Regions from separate parts of the Homo sapiens genome. Here all the other regions are linked to region 1. The links come from fine-mapping of genetic effects on gene expression. A gene starts in region 1. Each other region holds a variant in brackets. All regions are shown on one strand. Distances are from middle to middle. Region 1 holds the start of GBP5 (guanylate binding protein 5). Region 2 has its middle 38 kb from the start of GBP6. Region 3 holds the start of LOC105378838 (a long non-coding RNA gene).

Region 1 (8,023 bases):
CTCTCCACTGAGAAGGCAACCTAGACAAGGAGAACTCCTGATCAAGTATGAGCAAAACCTAGAATGGGTAATAGAGGAGAAGATCTTGAATATCAGTTAGGATCACAAAATCAGTTGCAGCAAAGAGGACTATAGCTTAGACTTTCCTATTGTGTGTGTGTGTGTGTGTGTGTATATATATATATTTAAACTAACGACCAGCCACAAAATTGAAGAAGCCATTAAGGAAAGGTTGATCTTTGCATAAGATAGGGGCAATATGGATGGGATACCCACAACATCTGTGAAGGCCATCTCCCTTTATCACTCAACCTTGCACATTCCAATGGCATCTCACTGCAAACATCAGAGATCCTTCATCTAAGCATTTTTTCTCAGCCCACACGTGGGCCAGGTCAGGAGTGCAAGGGGGTTATGCTTTCAGGACCAGTCTTTATCCAGAAATGAAAGGAAGTTGGAAGAAAAGTACCCCAGGTTTCTAACCCACCCAAGAGGGAAATTGGAGGCAGATTTTACATTGTTTCCTAGAGTTACCTGAGGAGATCTAACTCCTGGTTCCCACAACAAAACCTGCTAGATATGTTCCCAGTCACTGGCTTCATTCCGTTCCAGTTTTCACTTTCCCACTGTCCTACCCCGTTTCTTATGAGCACCTTCAAAATAAATATCCCTTGCTCACAAATCCTTGTCTAGGAACTAAAGCTCCAAAAATACTGCCTAACAGCCACTCTGTTCATTGTAAAATAAAGATAGAAAAAAAATTGTCTTGTAGGATTGAAACCAGGATAATATGAGATATTTAGTGTCCAGATCTTAGAATCCATTTATTAAAAAGGGACAATAATAATGATGATTATTATGATGATTCACTCAACAAACACAAAAGGACTACAATAAAGTGCTTGGGTTTCAGTCTTAAGATCCATTTATTAGTAGCTCTGTGATTTTGGGCAAGTTACTAAATCTCCCTGTGTCTTAGCTTTTGTAAAATTGGGAGAAAGCATTTGTTGGGAGAATTAAAATAGAATAATCCACACAAAGTAGTGAAACCTGTCCAGGGCATTACAAATGTCTAATAAATAATATCCTTGTTATCATTCATCATGTACTAAGTGCCAAAAACTTTGTCCTTGCCTGTGAGTTAAAGTTCTCAGCTACTGAACCTACTGCGAAAGTAATAAACTTAGTCCTGTGTGAGCAGCTCTAACATTTCACAACAATAGACCTCAAAAATCATATGAGCTCTTCCCCTGGCCTACTCCCAAACTGGAGATGAATGTCAACGTATTTCAAGCTAGGTTTGAAATACCACATACTTTGAACAACTGTGAAAGATCTCAAATTTCTCTTCTAGTAACAACAACAATGGAAGCAGGGAGGAGTATGGCTGGCACTGAAAGGATTCTCTGCAGTTTCTAGGAAACATGCAGTTTCAAAGAAGTCAGGTCAAATACATCCAGCCTATCTACACTAGGTAACAGTTGGGCAATTCCCTTTGTCATCTGGCTTAGTCACTGAATTTCCTTTTTGGTTTCTATTTCCTACAGAGAACTTTCAAAAATCCCCCTTTCTGTTATTCCATATTTTGTATTCAAATTGTCTCCTTTTTCGAGCAGGGAAAATGGGGTGGGAAGAACAAAAACCCCAGGACTGAGTGAAGAAAATAAATGAGAAATCACCACAGTGAAAGTAAAAGACGAGAGTTCGAACTCAGCAAGTTCTCATCGAAGCAGCTTTCTTTTTTCTTTTCTTTTCTTTTTTTTTTTTTTTTTGAGACAGAGTCTCGCTCTGTCACCCAGGCTGAAGTGCAGTGGTGCAGTCTCGGCTCACTGCAAGCTCCGCCTCCCAGGTTCAAGCCATTCTCCTGCCTCAGCCTCCCGAGTAGCTGGGACCACAGGCGCCCGCCACCATGCCCAGGTAATTTTTTGTATATTTTTAGTAGAGACGGGGTTTCATCGTGTTAGCCAGGATGGTCTAGATCTCCTGACCTCGTCATCCACCCGCCTCGGCCACCCAACATGCTGGGATTACAGGCGTGAGCCACCGTGCCCAGTCCCTCATGGAAGCAGTTTTCTTACTAGCTCTAAAATACCTCTTCTCCCGATTTTATAATCAAGGTAATGAGAGGTGACGGCGTGCTGGCAGCCCTTGCAGCCCTCCCTCGCTCTCGGTGCCTCCTCTGCCTGGGCACCCACTCTGGCGGCACTTGAGGAGCCCTTCAGCCCTCCGCTGCACTGTGGGAGCCCCTTCCTGGGCTGGCCGAGGCCGGAGCTGGCTCCCTCAGCTTGCTGGGAGGTGTGGAGGGAGAGGCAGGGGTGGGAACTGGGGCTGCGCCCGGTGCTTGAGGGCCAGCGCGAGTTCTGGGTGGGCTTGGGCTCTGAGGGACCTGCACTCGGAGCGGCCCCAGGCAGTGAGGGGCTTAGCACCTGGGCCAGCAGCTGCTGTGCTCCACTTCTTGCAGGGCCTTAGCTGCCTCCCGGTGGGGCAGGGCTGGGGACCTGCAGCCTGCCATGCCTGAGCCTCCTCCCCTCTCCCGCTCCCCACCTCACCCCGCCATGGGTTCCTGTGCTGCCTGAGCCTCCCCAACCTGTGCTGACCCCTGCTCCACAGCACCCTGTCCCATCCATGGCCCAAGGACCGAGGAGTGCCAGTGCATGGAGCAGGACTGGCAGGCAGCTCCACCTGCCGCCCGGTGCAAGATCCACTGGGTGAAGCCAGCTGGGCTCTTGAGTCTAGTGGGAACTTGGAGAATCTTTATGTCTAGCTAAGGGATTGTAAATACACCAATCAGCACTCTGTATCTATTTAATCTGGTGGGGACTTGGAGAATCTTTATGTCTAGCTAAGGGATTGTAAATGCACCAATCAGCACTCTGTATCTACCTCAAGGTTTGTAAATGCACCAATCAGCACTCTGTATCTAGCTCAAGGTTTGTAAATAGGCCAATCCACACTCTGTATCTAGCTAATCTAGTGGGGACATGAAGAACTTTTGTGTCCAGCTCAGGGATTGTAAACACACCAATCAGCACCCTGTCAAAACAGACCAATCAGCTCTCTGTAAAATGGACCAATCGGCTCTCTGTAAAATGGACCCATCAGCAGGATGTGGGTGGGGCCAGATAAGAGAAGTAGCCAGCAGTGGCAACCCACTGAGGTCACCCTCCAGGCTGTGGAACCTTTGTTCTTTCACTCTTTGCAATAAATCTTGCTGCTGCTCACTCTTTGGGTCCACACTGCCTTTATGAGCTGTAACACTCACTGGGAATGTCTGCAGCTTCACTCCTGAAGCCAGCGAGACCACGAACCCACCAGGAGGAACAAACAACTCCAGACGCGCAGCCTTAAGAGCTGTAACACTCACCGCGAAGGTCTGCAGCTTCACTCCTGAGCCAGCCAGACCACGAACCCACCAGAAGGAAGAAACTCCAAACACATCCGAACATCAGAAGGAGCAAACTCCTGACACGCCACCTTTAAGAACCGTGACACTCAACGCTAGGGTCCGCGGCTTCATTCTTGAAGTCAGTGAGACCAAGAACCCACCAATTCCGGACACGGTAAGACTGGGGCAAGAGGTGGAAGAGATTTGCAAGATTCATTTGGTTTTAGAAACATTCTACAAAGGATAGGATGCAGCTTATCCTGATGTGGTATATCAGACCTCAGTAAAGAATAAATTGTATTCTTATCAGACAGGCAGCAGAATTCATCAAGTACCAGCTGTGTCTGCCTCTTGCTGAATTAGACATCAATGTGTGTGGTGACTAAACTAAGAGTTTGAAATGCCTTCAAATTATTTTTCTTCCTTTGCAATTTTATGACTTATTCAGGATCATAATTTCCACTTAAGTTACCTTCGTCCTTCATAAAATCTGATTAAACTGACTCGAACTTCAGCATGAAAGTTTCAAAAACTATGATAGCTATTATTTTCATGAGAAAGAACAATGAATATGATGCAATGTAAGTAGCTTGCAAACATTAAGGACAAGAAAAAAATGTTGCCCAGAGAGAAGTTTCATGAAAACAGTGATGTATTTTTAGTCATAGTCTTGTACTTTGTTTGAAAGTAGATTTCTTCCTTTAGCAATAGCCCTGACTTAATTCATGTTGGTTTCTTGGCATCTACTCACTTAACTAACCCCTTTTGTGTTGGGTTCTGCTTCTACTACTCTATTGCCTTTACTATTATGAATCACCTAATTTAACAGTTGCCCAACTGGATCCCTCAATACTGTCTGGCAACTGTTCACTCGTTGAAATTCTCTCCTTTGAATTTCTTACCATGACACATACTTCAAGCATTTTGTACTAGTTTGATTTCCATTTATATCCTTAATAAGAGCCTTTTCCTTTTCCTTGAAATTCAAACCAGAAACTATGCAAAATAAGCAAAAGCAAGCAATAACAACTACATATACAAATGCAGGCGCAAAACCCAAACTAGAATCATATGGCTGAAAACAGATGTTTTCTTTCAGAAATCCTTCCACTACCACTTCTGAGCATTTTCTCTTAGTATTTTTTTTTGGGCATTTTCCTTCTTTGCACTTTTTAAAATCTCCTGCAGCTCGCTCACTCTCTTTCATAAGCCAGCAGTTATACTGATGTTAATAAATAGTTGTTTATTTACTTTTGCTTTTTTAGAAAACAAGCTGAAAGAATTGAGTGAAATGCCAGAGAGATACAGATAGCCAGTTGTAGGGCTGGGGTTGGAAATCAAGTCTAATTTAAGGCAAGGGCAAAATGTGCATTTTGTGTGTGTATTTTGAACCATTCTTGCATTGTTTTTATTTGCAAAGGTTATAGGGCTCAAGCAGTTAGGGAGAATGCATCCCAGAACACTAAGTTATGAATAACAGAGCAACAGTTATGTTTGTGGCTTGAACACATTAAATCTGCAATAATGTTTTAGAAATTTGGCTTTACTAAAAGCATTAAAGATGCTATCCAGATGACATTGGGGACAACATGTCAAATACTATTATTAATGTAGATATACAATGCTATTGTCATTCATAAGAGAGTCTGAACACTCAGACACATTCATTCCCTCTTCCTTAGTGACATCATCCCAAATCATAAGATCTTGTAAGCTCTCAATATCTGCTTATAGATTTGGCTTATGTATCTTTTGTTTTTCTAGCTAATTGTTGTAGATCATCACTTCAAGGTGCCCATATCTTTCTAGTGGAAAAATTATTCTGGCCTCCGCTGCATACAAATCAGGCAACCAGAATTCTACATATATAAGGTACTAATACTACATTGAAAATAGATTAGAATGAGAAGAGACCTGCCATTTGAGTCTCTAAATTTGTTGCAAAATTGCCTCTTTCTGGGTCAGGCTTGCACTAGGCATTTCCTGACTCCCATGTCCTAGTGCTACACCATTTGCAAATGGATATCCTATTTTCTGCTGCCAAGCAGTTTCTGTTTTAATTTATGTCAACATAATGATTTCCAGGGCATTAGCTATGAGGAAGCAGGGAGAATGGGTCTTCATAATTGTAAAATGACAGTTTTTGAAATTTGCTAGTAAAGAGATGGAGAATCCAAACCTTTTCATTGTAAGATTTTAGTGAAAGAACTCGTCAAGCGGATAGTGAAGTTTTAGCATCCTTAGTAAATAACCACCTTTAAAATGGAAGAAAACTATCCTTTATGATAAGGCAAAGTAGAAAAGCATATTTTTATGGCATTTGCTTTTTCTCATATAGCTCAAACATTTTTTTTAACCAGAGACTCTTTAGGTTATAGGGATTGATGCTCAGAAGTTAGAAAAAAATAGGTTAAGTATTATTAAAGGAAGTTGTTTTACTCATTCAGTCAATCATAAAATAATCATGCTTTGAAGTTTTGGTTTAATAAAGCACATTAGTAACTATGTAAAAAATTTCAAGTATATCACTAAGAAGCAAACAGCTATGATTTGTTAGATAATGCTGCATAATGACTTGGTAGTATTTAATGTAATGCAGTTTGACTGGACATAGATCTAACTGAAAAAAATGAAGTTGACACAAAGTAAAAGGAACAGTGTAATATATTAATAAAGAACATCATAAAGAATTAATATAGGAACCCAGGGAGGTAAAAACTAAAAAACATAACTAAGCCAAAAACCAATGGAATAAGAGTTAGATTCAAACTAGTAGGTTAGACGCAGGAAATGGATTTTCGTATGCCTATCAAATATTTAAGAACCAGTAGAATGGCCTATAGTAGACATATAAAGGGCCTAGGACTTACTTTTGTTTTAAAATAAAGTCTCTCTATTTTACAGGACTCTTTTTATTTTAAAACTTTTTTTTTCCAGAAACTTAGGCAGTGCTGGGGAGTAGTATGTCCCCAGGTTCAGTAAGCAAAATGACTTCCTTTGCTTATTAAACAAACACCAGAAATTCCAGCCTATCCCATCTGTTCCCTTGCAGGCAAAGTAACATCCTAGACATGGCTTTAGAGATCCACATGTCAGACCCCATGTGCCTCATCGAGAACTTTAATGAGCAGCTGAAGGTTAATCAGGAAGCTTTGGAGATCCTGTCTGCCATTACGCAACCTGTAGTTGTGGTAGCGATTGTGGGCCTCTATCGCACTGGCAAATCCTACCTGATGAACAAGCTGGCTGGGAAGAACAAGGGTGAGTGGTACCAGCAAAGCTCTGCCAAACCCTTCTGTCCATTCACACAGTCACCATCCAGTACGAGGAAGCAAGGAGAGAGTAAGACATGAGGATGAATATTAAAAGCCAATGTTTAGGCTACAGCTGGTCTTTTTATCTTTTGGAAGATGAAGACCAGTTCTCTGTTCCTGACATATCACCTCTTTTTTTTTTCTTTGCCTTGATTTCTTCTTGTAAAATGTATAATATATTCTCCTTGTAAGGAGTAAGACATCAATGAAGTAATTCCCGTATACATAATTATAAACTAGCAACATTTTAGTAGCATAATATTTTTTTAATATCAAAGTTCCAACCTATGGTATTTGATATTGTTTTTCCATTTCTGCATCATCATTCAAATCAATACTGGTTGTACATTCTGCTATCTCCTCATCTTGCTTTCCTTAAACTCTAGCTGAATGATCAAGCAAATCCCCAATTTCCAGAGTTTCTCTTCTATTACAACCTCTCACTCCCCCTGACAGGCTTCTCTGTTGCATCTACGGTGCAGTCTCACACCAAGGGAATTTGGATATGGTGTGTGCCTCATCCCAACTGGCCAAATCACACATTAGTTCTGCTTGACACCGAGGGCCTGGGAGATGTAGAGAAGGTAAGGAAGGATTCCTTTTTTTAACCTCCTAATCTCTGAACTGTCTTTTCACAGGGAGATTTTAGGTTTATTTTTCTAAATTTGTAGTTCCACTTGACCAATGTATACCCCCATTGTTTTCCTTTGTATTTTTAATATTCAGAGTTTGGAAGCCTGACATGAGAAAATACATTTATAAGCCAGAATCAGTATTAGAAGAGCAGTGTTGATGTTGAGCTAGGCAATTAACGCAAATGCATAAACATGATGCATATAAAATCACTGTTACAAGCCTGATCCTGTAGATTATACTAGTTAATAGTGGGTTCTGTTCTTAAATGAACTTGTGTTCCAATCAGAGCTCTAGCACTTGTAGCTTTCTGACTTTGATAAGAGAAGTAAGTCTCTCCAAATGTTTTATTTTTTCTTTGGTCTTTCTTATTCAACTCACTACTTAAAAACAGTAGATACATGGGCCTTTCCTAGTTATATGCTGGTAAGTACTTAACAACCAGCTCAAGGACAAAATAACAAAAACAAAAACAACCATGATTTGTAGCACTTGACTATTTTCTGAATACTCCCATCATAATTGATTTCAAGCTACCAAAGTTAATTCACTAAACTCAGACTTGGGAAGACATGCACACAATTTGCTGTCATGAGTTGGTATGAGTTGGCTCCAGCACACAACTGGATCTTTCTCTTGAACTTCCATTGTTTTTTTTCTGTGTGTGTGTTTTTTGTCTTTGTTTTTGATT
Region 2 (8,023 bases), 130 kb before region 1:
AAAAAATGCTTAACATGTCTTAGATCTGGCACGATGGCTGAATAGGAATAGCTCCGGTCTGCAGCTACCAGTGAGACCAATGCAGAAGGCAAGTGATTTCTGTGTTTCCAACTGAGGTACCCTGTTCATCTCATTGGGACTGGTTAGGCAGTGGGTGTAGTCTTCTGCATTTCCGACTGAGGTACCCTGTTCATCTCATTGAGACTGGTTAGGCAGTGGTGCAGCTCACAGAGAGCGAGCAGAAGCAGGGTGGGGCATTGACTCACCTGCGAAGTGCAAGGAGCCAGGGACCTCCCTCCCCCAGCCAAGGGGAGCCCTGAGGGACTGTGCTACCCACCCAGATACTACGCTTTTCCGTGTGGTTTTTGCAATCTGCAGACCAGGATATTCCCTCGTGCCTATACCACCAGGACCCTGGGGTTTCAAGCACAAAACTGGGCAGCTGTTTGAGAAGACACCGAGCTGGCTGCAGGAATTTTTTTTTTTCCCCTAGTGGTGGAATCCCAGCAAGACAGAATCATTCATTCTCATGGAAAGGGGGCTGAAGCCAGGGAGCCAAGTTGTCTTGCTCAGCGGGTCCCACTCCTACGGAGCCCAGCAAGCTAAGAAACACTGGCTTGAAATTCTCACTGCCAGCACAGCAGTCTGAAGTTGACCTGGGACAATTGAACCTGGTTGGGGGAGGGTCGTCCACCATTACTGAGGTTTGAGTAGGCGGTTTTCTCCTGACAGTGCTAAGGAGGCTGGGAAGTTTGGACTGGGTGGAACTCAACAGAGCACTGCAAAGCAGCTGTGGCCAGACTGCCTCTCTAGATTCCTCCTCACTGGGCAGAGCATCTCTGAAGGAAAGGCAGCAGCCCCAGTCAGGGGCTTATAGATAAAACTCCCATCCCCCTGGGACAGAGACCTGAGGGAAGGGGTGGCTGTGGGCACAGCTTCAGCAGATTTAAATGTTACTGCCTACCAGCTCTGAAGAGAGCAGTTGATCCTGATGAGGAGGATTCTCCCAGCACAATGCTTGAGCTCTGCTAAAGGACAGACTGCCTCCTCAAGTAGGTCCCTGACTGGGAGAGACCTCCCAACAGGGGTTGACAGAGATCTCATACTGGAGAGTTCCAGCTGGCATCAAGCCAGTGCCCCCCCTGGGACACAGCTTTTGGAGGAAGGAGCAGGCAGCAATCCTTGCTGTTCTGCAGCCTCTGCTGGCGATACCAGCAAACAGGGTCTGAAGTGGACCTCCAGCAAACTGCAACAGACCTGCAGAAGAGAGGCCTGACTTTGAGAAGAAAAACTAACAGAAAGCAAAAATACCAACATCAACAAAAGGGACCCCCACACAAAAACCCTGTTCAAAGGTCATCAGCCTCAAAAATCAAAGGTAGACAAATCCACAAAGATGACGAAAAACCAGCACAAAAAAGCTGAAAATTCCAAAAAACAGAATGCCTCTTCTCCAAATGATCCCAACTCCTCTCCAGCAAGGGCACAAAACTGGACAGAGAATGAGTTTGACAAATTGACAGAAGTAGGCTTCAGAAGGTGGGTAGTAACAAACTCCTCTGAGCTAAAGGAGCATGTTCTAACCCAATGCAAGGAAGCTAAGAAACTTGATAAAAGATTACAGGAACTGCTAGCTAGAATATCCAGTTTAGAGAAGAGCATAAATGACCTGATGGAGCTGAAAAAAAAAAACCATGATAACTTCATGAAGCATTCGGAAGTATCAATAGCCGAATCAATAGCAGAAGAAAGGATGTCAGAGATTGGAGATCAACTTACTGAAATAAGGCGTGAAGACAAGATTAGAGAAAAGAGAATAAAAAGGAACGAACAAAGCCTCCAGGAACTATGGGACTAAGTGAAAAGACCAAACCTACAATTGATTTGTGTACCCAGAAGTGACGGGGAGAACGGAACCAAGTTGGAAAACACACTGCAGGATATTATCCAGGAGAACAGCAAGACAGGCCAACATTCAAATTCAGGAAATATAGAGAAGACCACTATAATACTCCTTGAGAAGAGCAACCCCAAGACACATAATCGTCAGATTCTCCAAGGTTGAAACAAAGGAACACACGTTAAGGGCAGTCAGAGAGAAAGCTCAGGTTACCTACAAAGGGAAGCCCATCAGAGTAACAGCAGATCTGTCTGTAGAAACCCTACAAGCCAGAAGAGAGTGGGGGCCAATATTCAATATTCTTAAAGAAAAGAATCTTCAATCCAGAATTTCATATCCAGCGAAACTAAGCTTCGTAAGTGAAGGAGAAATAAAATCCTTTCCAGACAAGCAAATGCTGAGAGATTTTGTCACCATGGGGCCTGCCTTACAAGAGCTCCTGAAGGATGCACTAAATATGAAAAGGAAAAACTGGTACCAGCCACTGCAAAAACATACCAAAATATAAAGACCATTGGCACCATGAAGAAACTACATCAACTAATGTGCAAAATAACCAGGTAATATCATAATGACAGGATCAAATTCACATATAATAATATTAACCTTAAATGTAAATGGGCTAAATGCCCCAATTAAAGACACAGACTGGCAAACTGGATAAAGAGTCAAGACCCATCCGTGTGCTATATTCAGGAGACCCATCACACTTGCAAAGACACACATAGGCTCAAGATAAAGGGATGGAGAAATATTTGCCAAGCAAATGGAAAGTGAAAAAAAAAAAAAGGAGGGGTTGCAATCCTAATATCTGATAAAACAGACTTAAAACCAACAAAGATCAAAAAAGACAAAGAAGGGCATTACATAATGGTAAAGGGATCAATAAAATGAGAAGGGCTAACCATCCTAAATATATATGCTCTCAAAACAGGAGCACCTAGATTCATAAAACAAGTTCTTAGAGACATACAAAGAGACTTAGACTCCCACACAATATAGTTGGAGACTTTAACAGCCCACTGTCAATAGTAGACAGATCAAGGAGACAGAAAATTAACAAGGATACTGAGGACTTGAACTCAGCTTTGGACAAAGCAGACCTAATAGACATCTACATAATTCTCCACCCCAAGTCAACAGAATATACATTCTTCTCAGCATCACATAGCACTTATTCTAAAATCGACCACATAATTGGAAGTAAAACACTCCTCAGCAAGTGCAAAAGAACAGAAATCTTAACAAACAGTCACTCAGACCACAGTGCAAACAAATTAGAACTCAGGATTAAGAAACTCACTCAAAACCACACAACTACGTGGAAACTGAACAACCTGCTCCTGAATGAATACTGGTTAAATAACAAAATGAAGGCAGAAATAAAGATGTTCTTTGAAACCAATGAGAACAAAGACACAATGTACCAAAATCTCTGGGTCACATTTAAAGCAGTATTTAGAGGGAAATTTATAGCACTAAATGCCCACAAGAGAAAGCAGAAAAGATCTACAACTGAAACCCTAACATCAAAATTAAAATAACTAGGCCCAGCGTGGTGGCTTATATCTGTAATCCCCTCACTTTGTGAGGCCGAGGCGGGTGGATCATGAGGTCAGGAGATTGAGACTATTCTGGCTAACATGGTGAATCCCCATCTCTAATAAAAATACAAAAATTAGCCAGGCATGGGGGCATGCGCCTGTAGTCCCAGCTACTCGGGATGCTGAGGGAGGAGAATTGCTTGAACCTGGGAGGCGGAGGTTGCAGAGAGCTGAGATCGTGCCACTGCACTCCAGGCTAGGTGACAGAGGAAGACTCCATCTCAAAAAAAAAAAAAAA[G/AAAG]TAGAACTAGAGAAGCAAGAGCAAACAAATTCAAAAGCTAACAGAAGACAAGAAATAACTAAGATCAGAGCAGAACTGAAAGAGATAGAGACACGAAAAACCCTTCAAATAATCAGTGAATACGGGAGCTGGTTTTTTGAAAAGATCAACAAAATAGACCACTAGCCAGACTAATAAAGAAGAAAAGAGAGAAGAATCAAATAGACGCAACAAAAAATCATAAAGGGGATATCACCACTGATCCCACAAAAATACAAATTACCATCAGAGAATACTATAAACACCTCTACACAAATAAACTAGAAAATTTAGAAGAAATGGATGAATTCCTGGACACATACACCCTGCCAAGACTAAACCAGGAAGAAGTTGAATCCCTGAATAGACCAATAACAAGTTCTAAAATTGAGGCAGTAATTAATAGCCTACCAATGAAAAAAAGCCCAGGACCAGACAGATTCCAGCCAAATTCTACCAGACGTAGAAATAGGAGCTGGTACCATTCCTTCTGAAACTATTCCAAACAACAGAAAAAGAGAGAATCCTCCCTAACTCATTTTATGAGGCCAACATCATCCTAATACCAAAACCTGGCAGAGACACAACAAAAAAAGAAAATTTCAGGCCAATATCCCTAATGAACGTCTATGCGAAAATGCTCAATAAAATACTGGCAAACGGAATCCAGCAGCACATCAAAAATGATCAAGTCAGCTTCATACCTGGGATGCAAGGCTGGTTCAACATATGCAAATCAATAAACATTATCACATAAACAGAACCAATGACAAAAACCACATGACTATCCCAATAGATGCAGAAAAGGCCTTCAACAAAATTCAACACCCCTAATGCTGAAAACTCTCAATAAACTAGGTATTGATGGAACGTATCTCAAATTAATAAGAGCTATTTATGACAAACCCACAGCCAATATCATACTGAATGGGCAAAAACTGGAAGCATTGCCTTTAAAAACCAGCACAAGACAAGGATGCCCTCTTGCAGCACTCCTATTCAACATAGTATTGGATGTTCTGGCCAGGGCAATCAGGCAAGAGAAAGAAGTAAAGGGTATTCAAATAGGACAAGAGGAAGTCAAATTGTCTCTGATTGCAGATGACATGATTGTGTATTTAGAAAACCCCACCGTTTCAGCCCAAAATTTCCTTAAGCTGATAAGCAACTTCAGCAAAGTCTCAGGAAATAAAATCAATGTGCGAAAATCACAACCATTCCTATACACCAATAATAGACAAAAAGAGAGCCAAATCATGAGTGAACTCCAATTCACAATTGCTACAAAGAGAATAAAATACCTAGGAATCCAACTTACAAGGGATGTGAAGGACCTCTTCAAGGAGAACTACAAACCACTGCTCAAGGGAATAAGAGGTGACACAATAAATGGAAAAACATTTCACGCTCATGGATAAGAAGAAGTAATATTGTGAAAATGGCCATACTGCCCAAGGTAATTTATAGATTCAATGCCATCCCAACCAAACTACCATTGACTTTCTTCACGGAATTGGAAAAAACTACTTTAAAGTTCATATGGAACCAAAAAAGAACCCGCATAGCCAAGAAAATCCTAAGCCAAAAGAGCAAAGCTGGAGGCATCACGCTACCTGACTTCAAACCATACTACAAGGCTACAGTAACCAAAATAGCATGGTACTGGTGCCAAAACAGATATATAGACCAATGGAACAGGACAGAAGCCTCAGAAATAACACCACACATCTACAACCATCTGATCTTTGACAAAGTTGACAAAAACAAGCAATGGGGAAGGATTCCCTATTAAATAAATGGTGTTGACTGGCTAGTCATATGTAGTAAACTGAAACTGGACCCCTTCCTTACACCTTGTACAAAAATTAACTCAAGATGGATTAAAGACTTAATGTAAGACCTAAAACCATAAAAATCCTTGAAGAAAACCTAGGCAATACTATTCAGAACATAGGCATGGGCAAAGACATCATGTCTAAACACCAAAACAATGGCAACAAAAGCCAAAATTGACAAATGGGATCTAATTAAACTAAAGAGCTTCTGCACAGCAAAAGAAACCATCATCAGACTGAACAGGAAACCTACAAAATGGGAGAAAATTTTTGAAATCTATCCATTTGACAGAGGGCTAATATCCAGAACCTACAAAAAACTTAAACAAATTTACAAGAAAAAAACAAACAACCCCATCAAAAAGTTGGTGAAGGATATGAACAGACACTTCTCAAAAGAAGACATTTTTGCAGCCAACAAACATATGAAAAAAAGCTAATCATCACTAGTCATTAGAGAAATGCAAATCAAAACCACAGTGGGATACTATCTCATGCCAGTTAGAATGGCAATCATTAAAAAGTCAGGAAACAACAGATGCTGGAGATGATGTGGAGAAATAGGAAAGCTTGTACACTGTTGGTGGGAGTGTAAATTAGTTTAACCATTGTGGAATACAGTGTGGTGATTCCTCAAGGATCTAGAACTAGAAATACCATTTGACCCTGCAATCCCATTACTGGGTATATACCCAAAGGATTATAAATCATTCTACTATAAAGACACACGCACACATATGTTTATTTTGGCACTTTTCACAACAGCAAAGACTTGGAACCAGCCCAAATGCCCATCAATGATAGACTGGATAAAGAAAATGTGGCACATATACACCATGGAATACTACGCAGCCATGAGAAAGGATGAGTTCATGTCCTTTGCAGGGACATGGATGATGCTGGAGACCATCATTCTCAGCAAACTAACACAAGAACAGAAAACCAAACACCACATGTTCTCATTCATAAGTGGGAGCTGAACAATGAGAATCATGGACACAGGGAGGAGAATATCACACACTGGGGCTTGTTAGGGGTGGGAGACTAGGGGAGGGATAGCATTAGGAGAAATACCTAAAGTAGTTGATGGGTTGATGGGTGCAGCAAACCACCATGGCACATGCATACTTATGTAACAAAACTGCACGTTCTGCATATGTACCCTACAACTTAAACTCTATTTAAAAAAAGCAACTACAGGCCAATATCTCTGATAAATATTGATGCAAAAATTTTCAACACTACATTACCATATCAAATTCAACAATACATTGAAAATAATTTATGACTAAGTCGGACTTATCCCAGGGATTCAAGGTTGTTTCCACATATGCAAATCAAACAATGTGATACATTATAGCAACATAATGGAGAACAAAAACCATTTGATCATTTCAATTGATGCTGAAAAAGTATGTGATAAAATTCAACATCCTTTCACAATAAAAACCCTAATAAAACTGGGTATAGAAGGAACATACTTCAACACACTAAAAGCCATATGTGACAGACTCACAGCCAATATCATACTGAATGGGGGAACACTGAAAGCCCATTCTCTAATACCTGGAAGATAACAAGGATACCCACTTTACCACTGTTATTCAACATAGTACTAGAAGTTCTAGGTCGAGCAACTGGACAAGAGAATGTCATAAAGGGTATCCAAATTGGAAAGGAAGAAGTCAAATTATCTTTGTTTGCACATAACATGATCTTATATTTGGAAAAACCTAAAAACTCCACCAAAAACTATTAGAGCTGATAAATTCAGTAAAGTTTCAGGATACAAAAGTAATATACACAACTCATAGCATTTCTATATGCCAACAGTAAACAATCTGACACAGAAATAAAAAAGCAATCACATTTACAGTAGCTGCTAATAAAATTTTATATCTAGGAATTAACCAAAAGAATGGAAAGATCTCTACAACGAGGTCTGAGGCATGGTGGCTCAGCCTGTAATCCCAGCACTTTGGGAGACCGAGGTGGGCAGATCACCTGAGGTCAGGAGTTCAAGACCAGCCTGCCCAACATGGTGAAACTAACATGGTGAAACTCCATCTCTACTAAAAATACAAAAATTAACTGGCTGTGGTGGCAGGTACCTGTAATCCCAGCTACTTGGGGGGCTGAGGAAGGAGAATTGCTTGAACCTGGGAGGTGGAGGCTGCAATGAGCTAAGATTGTGCCATTGCACTCCAGCCTGGGTGACAAGAGCAAAATTCTGTCTCAAAACAAAAACAAAAACAAAACAAAACAAAAACAAAATCTCTACAATGAAAACTACAAAACACTGAGGAAAGAAATCGAAGAGTATACAAAAAATGGAAAGTTATTCCATTTGCATGGATTTGAAGAATGAACATTTTAAAAATGTCCATACTACCCAAAGAAATCTACAGATTCAGTGAATTCCCTATCA
Region 3 (8,023 bases), 660 kb after region 1:
ATAGGAAATGAAAGATTAAGCTCATCCCAAGTTAATAGCATTATAAGTTTTTATGGTTTATGAAATTTAGTTTGCAGCTTTTCAAACCCCAGGTAGTAAAAATACACATAGATGAAAACCCTCAAACAATAAAGAACACATTTGGACCTAATGACTTTTAACTCTTATGATGGGATACTTGAAAATCTAGTATAAAGAGACTCCTTTGGGATATAGCAAATGGGACTTGATGATGACACAGGCAGATTCCTTTAGACTCTCTCTCTTCTTTAGAGAGGTGATTTTCAACTTATCTTTGCAATTGAGATACCCTGGTGGTAACAGTTTATTATAATTATTTTATTCTATTTATATACCTTCCCCCACTCTTAAAGTATAGCAAACAAATTTCACTTACAGAGTTTTGATATACCTTTGACTCATTGGGACAGGGGCCTTTTTTAGCTGCATGCTCTATCCCCAGAATCTTGCACAGTCCTTGCACATAACTGGTGCTTAATAAATGTTGAATGAATGAATGACTATGAGCACTCCAGAGTTCTAGAAGGCTGGAATTGCAAATCACTCCTTTAGGACAATTGATTTTTCCTTAACAGAGATTATTCCAAACTTGTTCATCAATAGGTCTGCAGTATCTTTAGTTGACAAGAAAGTAGCATAGGATAGTGGCTAATCTGATGGACATAAATACAAGATGTCTTCGGTTGAAGTTTCAACTTAGCTGGGTGAACTTGACCATATTCAACTTTTTAATCTGTTTCCACATTTGGAACACAATAATAACTATCTAGGATTTTTGTGAGGATCAAATAAGTTAAAATACTCAAACTGTTTAGTAAAATGCTCAACACATATCTGGCTCTCAGTATATGTTAACTTTCAAAAAGAGGACACTTTAAGCATTTAGCTTAACCTAAAAGAGAAGAAGAGAGTGAGAGTGCTGGTAGTGTGAGAATTTCAAAGAAAGAGATAGCTTGTGGTATGGTCCAGAGTTCAGACTGAAGGAGATGAAGGGGTGGTACAACTTTGTTGCAGAATGGGCAGCTGGAAATATCACTGCTGCAAAGGAACTATCATGTCCTGAATATCTGCTGGGTACTTGAATGGTCAAACATGCTCCAGTCTCTAGGCCTTTGCCTCTTTTTCTCTTTGCTTAAATAGCCTTTCTCCAGATATCTATGTTGTCCATCTCCCTGTTCATTCAGGACTCTGTTCAAATGATACTCCTTCCCGGCAAGCCTATCACAAAAGGAACCTTCTGCTCATAAAGTAAAATGTCTCAGAGAATCCTAAACTCATTATGCTAAACGGAAAGTTAAATTAACCCTGGAGACTTTTAATTTTTCTTTACATCCTCTCTAATTCCCTATCTTTAACAGTAATGATAATTACATACTTTATTTTTCTTCTTAGCACTTTCACTATTGATATTACGTGTCTTTATCACCTACTATATTATAGGTGCATGAGTGCAGAGTGTCTTCTGTTCACTGTGACTAGAAGAGTGCTTGTTCATGGTAGGCATGCAATGAATTTTTTTTTGTCAAATCACATACACTTTTATCATTTGAACCTCACAAGCACTCTGCATGGTAAATGGGTATAGCCTCAGGTTGTGGGGGAACACATGGTGTTAGAGAGTTTAAACCACTTGCCAAAGATAACATAGCCAATGAGTCTTAGAACCAATATTTATGATTTATTTTAATAATCTTCTCACTATATCTCATAGTTTATGACATTTTATTTATTTTGAGACAGGGTCTTGCTCTGTTGCCCAGGCTGGAGTGCAGTGGTGTGATCATAGCTCACTGCTGCTTGAGAATTTTGGGTTCAAGCAATCCTCCCACCTCAACCTATAAATTAGTTTATATATATATTTTTAATTTTTCAAAAGCAGTTGGGACTTCCAGATTTAATGGCAGTACATGTTATGTAAAATAAGGCAAATAGGAATTAAAAAAGGACAGAGATCCTATACATAAAATTTAAAAAACAGATGCTCTGTGGCATCTGAGATAAATACAATATTGCCACAATTCTTTTTTTCTGGGCCCATGGTAGATGGTAGAAATGTGCAGGTTCCCATTGACCTTGGCCCTCAATCTCTTATTCCAAGAATTTGAGTCTCAGCCTCAGAAGGTGGAATCATCAAGTTAGCCTGTTTTCTTTACTAGATTATAAACTCTTTCAAACTAGGGACTATGTCTTCATCTCTGAACCCCTTACAACCTTTAGCATGATGTCTTGCCAGATGTTCGGTGTCTGTAGAATGTCAAACATCCATGCTTGCATACATTGCAAGGGAAGTTGGGCTAAACACTTCTACCATCCTGCCTTCTTCTAAGAGTTAATTATTATTACTATTTTTTTTTCTTAGACAGAGTCTTGCTCTGTCACCCAGGCTGAGTGCAGTGGTGTGATCTCGGCTCACTGCAACCTTTGCCTCCCAGGTTCAAGTGATTCTTGTGCCTCAGCCTCCTGAATAGCTGGGATTACAGGCGCCCGCCTCCGTGCCCGGCTAATTTTTTGTATTTTTAGTAGAGACGAAGTTTTGCCATGTTGGCCTGGCTGGTCTCGAGTGATCCACCTTCCTCAGCCTCCTAAAGTGCTAGGATTAGAGGAATGAGCCACTGCACCTGGCCTTAATCTTTTAAAAAGGACTTGAAGTGTTAATATGTACTTATTAGAGTCATATACGTCAAACGCCAGCATGAGGGAAGTTGAAGTGGGTAAGAGTGCCAGTTTACATGGGTCATATATTCTTGAACTCCTGACCTCAAATGATCCACCCGCCTTGGCCTCCCAAAGTGCTGGGATTACAAGCATGAGTCACCGCACCTGGCCAAGGGGCATATATTTTCACTGTAACAGATGCCCAACCCATTCGAGCATGAACATGAGTAGTACCGTAGGTGGAGCTCACTTTGTACCCTGGAAAAGAACTTTGACTTAATGGCTGGGTTGGAGCTGTAAAAGTTCTGTACTATATACCATGGAAGAGATAACTGTAAGCAGATATAATTTTAGAGCAAAGGTGCTATTTGATTCTTTATCAGTAGATATTAAATTTGGCTGTTTGTAATAGAAAACCCAAATGGCGGTGTCTTGAGTCAAATAGAGGTTTATTTTTCTTAAATAAAATGAAAAGTCTGAAAGAATGGTATACAAGGATGGTACAGAGGCTCAAGGAGAGCATATCCCTCAGATCTTTGTAATTTCTCTTGGCCTTCCCCTTGTGGTCAAATGCAAGTGGCTGCTGCAACACTTGCCATTATGTGTGCAGTTTAGGATGCACGAAGGAGAAAGAACAAAGGGCACAAAGGACTCAAAGGGCACAAAGGGCCTGTCAGCTGAGTCTGCCCCTCCCTCTTTGAGGAATTTTCCTTTTTCCTGCCTCCAAACAGCTGCTTATGTCTCCTTGGGCAGAACAGTGAGACATGGATACCTCTATCTACAAAGGTGGCTGGGAAATTTAGTATTTATTAGCTGGGCAACTTTGCCCTCATGCCCCAATAAAATGAAGGTTGTATCACTGAGGAACAATGGGAGAATAATTGGATGTTGAACAAACATCTAGCAGCCTTGCAATAATTATCCATTAAAGAACTTCAGCATAGTCCCATGGAATCCCTTAAAGAACATTACATTTTGGTGGATCTTCTGATAAATTAGTTGCAGAATACTCCGAAGTAGCTGTATGAGCTTATCTTTTGGTGGGGATATTAAAGAGTATTAAAACCCTGAAATGCTGAGTGCTACATAGAAGGAGTCTTGGAGGCTGGGCATGGTGGCTCACGCCTGTAATCCAAGCACTTTGGGAGGCCAAAGCGGCAGGATTGCTTGAAGCCAGGAGTTTGAGAACAGTCTGGGAACAAAGTGAGACTCTGTCTCTATAAAAAATACAAAAAATTAGCTGGGCGCAGTGGTGTGTATCTGAAATCCCAGCTACTGGGGAGTCTGAGGGAAAATTGCTTGAGCTGAGG[A/T]TGTTGAAGATACAGTGAGCTATGATTGTACCACTGCACTCCAGCCTGGGTGACAAAGTGAGAACTTGTCTCAAAAAAAAAAAAAAAAAAAAAAATAAAAGAAAAAAGGAGTCTTGGATTTGGGAGTTAGAAGGCATGGGTTCAAACTTTGTCTTCATCATGGTTCATTATGAGCCACTTTGATGTTCCATTCAATTATATGTATAAAGGAGATATGACAAACTGATTTTAAAATTTATATCAAGTACAAATGATTAAGAGTAAATAAGACATTTCTAAAGAAGCAGTACAGAGTAGAATAACTTGCTTATCAAAAATTAAGAATTTATTATAAAGCTCTATTTCTTCAGACAGTCTGGAATAAGGTGCAGAACTGTACAAATTGACCAACAAAGGAGAAAAGAGAGCCCAGAAACAGACCAATACAAAAACGGAAATTTTATTCATGACTGAGATGACACTGCAAATTGTTTAGGAAAAGATGACATTTTTAATAAGTGGCACTGGAACAATTGGTTGTGTGGTTGTGTGAATTTAAAAACTAAAATTGCAACCTTATCTCACACTATATATAAAAAACCAAATCCATGTGGATTAAGACTATACAAGCCAAAACTATAATGTTGAGCAGAAAGAGTAAGTTTCCAGTATGTTTCCATTTGAAAAAAGTACAAAAATATGCAAAAGCACATAATATATTGCTTAGCAAAACAAACATGGTTAAATGTAAATAAAAATGAGGGAAGGATAAAGAGAAAATTCAGGGAAGTATTTCTTAGGGGAAATGAAATGGGACACAGAGGACTTAAAGGTCCTTGTCCTTAAGTTGAGGACATCTACACAGGAGCGTGTTATACTTTATACCTACACCAATTTTATACGAATTCCTTTGTATCTACATATTACTTAAAAAATGTTTTAAAGTAGGCCGGGGATGGTGAGTCATACTTGTTTTTTTTGTGTGTTTTTTTTTCTGAGATGAAGTCTTGCTCTTGTCCCCTAGGCTGGAGTGCAATGGCGCGATGTTGGTTCACTGCAACCTCCGCCTCCCAGGTTCAAGCGATTTTCCTGCCTCAGCCTCCTGAGTAGCTAGGATTACAGGAGCCTGCCACCACGCCTGGCTAATTTTTGAATTTTTAGTAGAGATGGGGTTTCACCATGTTGGCCAGGCTGGTCTCGAACTCCTGACCTCAGGTGATCCGCCCACCTCAGCCTCCCAAAGTGCTGGGATTATAGGCATCAGCCACGGCGCCCAGCCCATACTTGTAATCTCAGCACTTTGGGAGGCCCAGGCAGGAGAATCACTTGAGCCCAGGAGTTTGACACCAGCCTGGGCAACATGGAGAAGCTTCGTCTCTACAAAAAATAAAAACATTAGCTGGGTGTGGTGATGTACTCCTGTAGTCCCAGCTACTTGAGAGAGTGAGATGGGGGGATTGCTTGAGCCTAGGAATTCGAGGCTGCAGTAAGCTGTGATCACATCACTGCACTCCAGCCTGGGCGACAGAGTGAGACCTTATCTCAAACAAAACAAAACAAAACAAAACAAAAAACAAAAAACAAACAAAAAAAATTAAATGTAGATGGGAAAGACATCAGTATCATTGAATTATTCTGAGTATCAAGTATGAAAATACACGAAGAAACATTAAATACATGTAAGTTATTCACTATACTATACTTCTTGAAGACAAAATTATTTCTAATCCATCTTTATATCCTTAGCACAGTGTCTGAAATACAGTGTGTACTTTACTGTTTTTTGAAAGAATAATTGAATAAGAAAGCAATTTTGATGTTAACATATATTAATACAGGGTTTTAAAATGTGATATTATTAGAACTAATAGAACTATCTCATTCTATTTTTAGAACTAGATATTATAAGAACTATGATATTATTAGAACATATATTAATACAGGATTTTTAAATGTGATATTATTAGAACTTCTTTAAAATGTAATTTATTAGAACTAATTCCTTCTAGTATTTACTAATAAACATATTACTGTACTCATTCACTCCTTTGGTAATTTATTTATTCTTTAAACATTTATTAAAGTCTGCAATGTTCCAGATACCATGCTAGTTACTGGGGGAGCTGAGGTGAACTCTACATGGTTCTTATTCCCAAGGGGCTCACAGTCACGTGGAAGAGACAAACAGATACCTGGATAATAGATAACAATTGTTGCTTCTTTAGACCATTTCTCAGTGTAATACGACTATGTCTACGTATCTGGTTGACTTTTTATTTTCTTTAGATAATGGAGACATTTTCAAAGTTTGACTTAATGAGTGCATAGTAAGTCACTCAGCTCTATTTCACAAGCATTGCAGGGAAATGAGATTTTAATGTCTCATATGAACTAGAGGCTGGAGAGTAGGCATGTTCTTGGCTTTGAACTGAGTTTAGTTCAGACTGGAATCAGGTGTGAATAGGAACAGGATCTATTTAATCAACACCTGTGGTGAAACTGGCTCTACTCAGAGAGAAGTGCTTTAAGTGCAGAGAGTCTGCATTTGACAGACTTCAGCACCTGGCTAGCAACATAATAGCTAGTGCCAACATGGGACTTGATAGTCCTGGGGAATATGAATGCAGCAAAGATGAAGTCCATAATGAAGAGTAAAGAAGACTGGAACTTCAGATGGGTTGACACTAAGGTGATTACATTAAACAAGATGGAAAAGCATTGAGGACAAGATTTTCCAAATCATATTCCTTGGAATGTCATTCCTTCAAAGATGCTTTGTAAGAAAAGGGATTCAAGTATGCTCAATAAATGTTGATTCCATTTTTTTTTGTAGATTCACAATGCAGAGCATTGTATAAAAAAGGCAACCATAAAACCTATTTAACTTCATTTAGAAAGTTCACAAAATAATTGAAGAAGCTGCTCAAGATTTTATGCTTTAGCCATTTCTATTTTTATTTTATTTTTGAGACACGGTCTTGCTGTGTCACCCAGGCTGGAGTGCAGTGGTGCAGTCCCAGCTCACTGCAGCCTCAACTTCCTGGCCACAAGTGATCTTCCCACCTCAGCCTCCAGAGTAGGTGGGACTACAGATGTGTACCACCACGCCCGGCTGATTTTTAAATTTGTTTTGTAGAGATGGGATTTCGCCATATTGCCCAGGCTGGTCTCGAACTCCTGAGTTCAAGCGATCCACCTGCTTTGGTATCTCAAATTGCTGAGATTACAGGCATGAGCCACTGCACCCGGCTTCTATTTTTAGTTATGCCTTATTTGCCCAACAAACATTTCTTGAGTGCCTATAGTTAGGCAATGGAGCAATTGGCTATGTTGTTAGTGATGTGGGGGAAGGTGAAATAATTTTTACATGAAAAAAACTATTGAACTAAGTTATTGTCTGTAGAGTCACAGCAGTACGTACATATGGCTAACTTAAATTAAAAGGTCGTGAACATCTGCTAGAGAAACAGTGTACCACCTAGTGACAATTCCTGAAAGTGCAGTAATATGCCATAGATGGTTTTTCAATTTTTGGTCAAATGGAGATAGTGACCTTCGCACAATCTGAGGTCCCTGAGAAGTGAATAAAATTTGGGTGGGGCATTAATTTAAAAAGTCGTGTTGCAGAAGTAATACATATTAATTGTAGAAAATTAGAAACAGACAAATTGGAAAAAAGAAAATAAAAATAAATCAGGAAAAAATATACACACATACATACACATATTTTTCCACATTTTTCTATGTATTTATAGGTACTATATTTTATACTATAATTTGTACTATAATTGTTATTTATTATAAATGTTCTTTTGTAACTATATTATACATAATAATCATATATATCTATTTATGTCAATGAATATTAATCTATACACTATTTTAAAATTATTGTATAATATTTCATTATGTGGGTATATCATAATTAACCTTTTCCTACTGATAAATATTTAGGTTGTTTAAGAATTTTCATGATTATGAATACCATTGTAATGAACGTCCATTTTATTCTTGACTGATTTATGTTTTCAAAATGAATTCTTAGAAGGGGAAATGCT

What was found. PIP is the estimated chance that this variant, and not a neighbour inherited with it, causes the effect.
Region 2: its variant is fine-mapped to the expression of GBP5 in whole blood (INTERVAL, PIP above 0.99).
Region 3: its variant is fine-mapped to the expression of GBP5 in whole blood (INTERVAL, PIP above 0.99).

The regions. Positions count from the first base shown.
Region 1 is chr1:89,267,989-89,276,011 of GRCh38, reverse strand. GBP5 (guanylate binding protein 5) reads left to right here and starts at 3,152. Exons shown (of 12, transcript NM_052942.5): 1 at 3,152-3,560; 2 at 5,150-5,257; 3 at 6,438-6,646; 4 at 7,156-7,283. The coding sequence starts at 6,457. It also overlaps the pseudogene LOC100421401.
Region 2 is chr1:89,397,958-89,405,980 of GRCh38, reverse strand. No RefSeq gene overlaps it. Among named protein-coding and RNA genes, the nearest start is that of GBP6, 38 kb to the right of the region's middle. The variant G/AAAG (reference allele first, on the strand shown) is at 3,743.
Region 3 is chr1:88,607,742-88,615,764 of GRCh38, reverse strand. All of the region lies in intron 1 of PKN2-AS1 (PKN2 antisense RNA 1), which reads left to right. It overlaps LOC105378838 (a long non-coding RNA gene), which reads right to left and starts at 478. Exons shown (of 3, transcript XR_947572.4): 1 at 398-478. The variant A/T (reference allele first, on the strand shown) is at 3,987.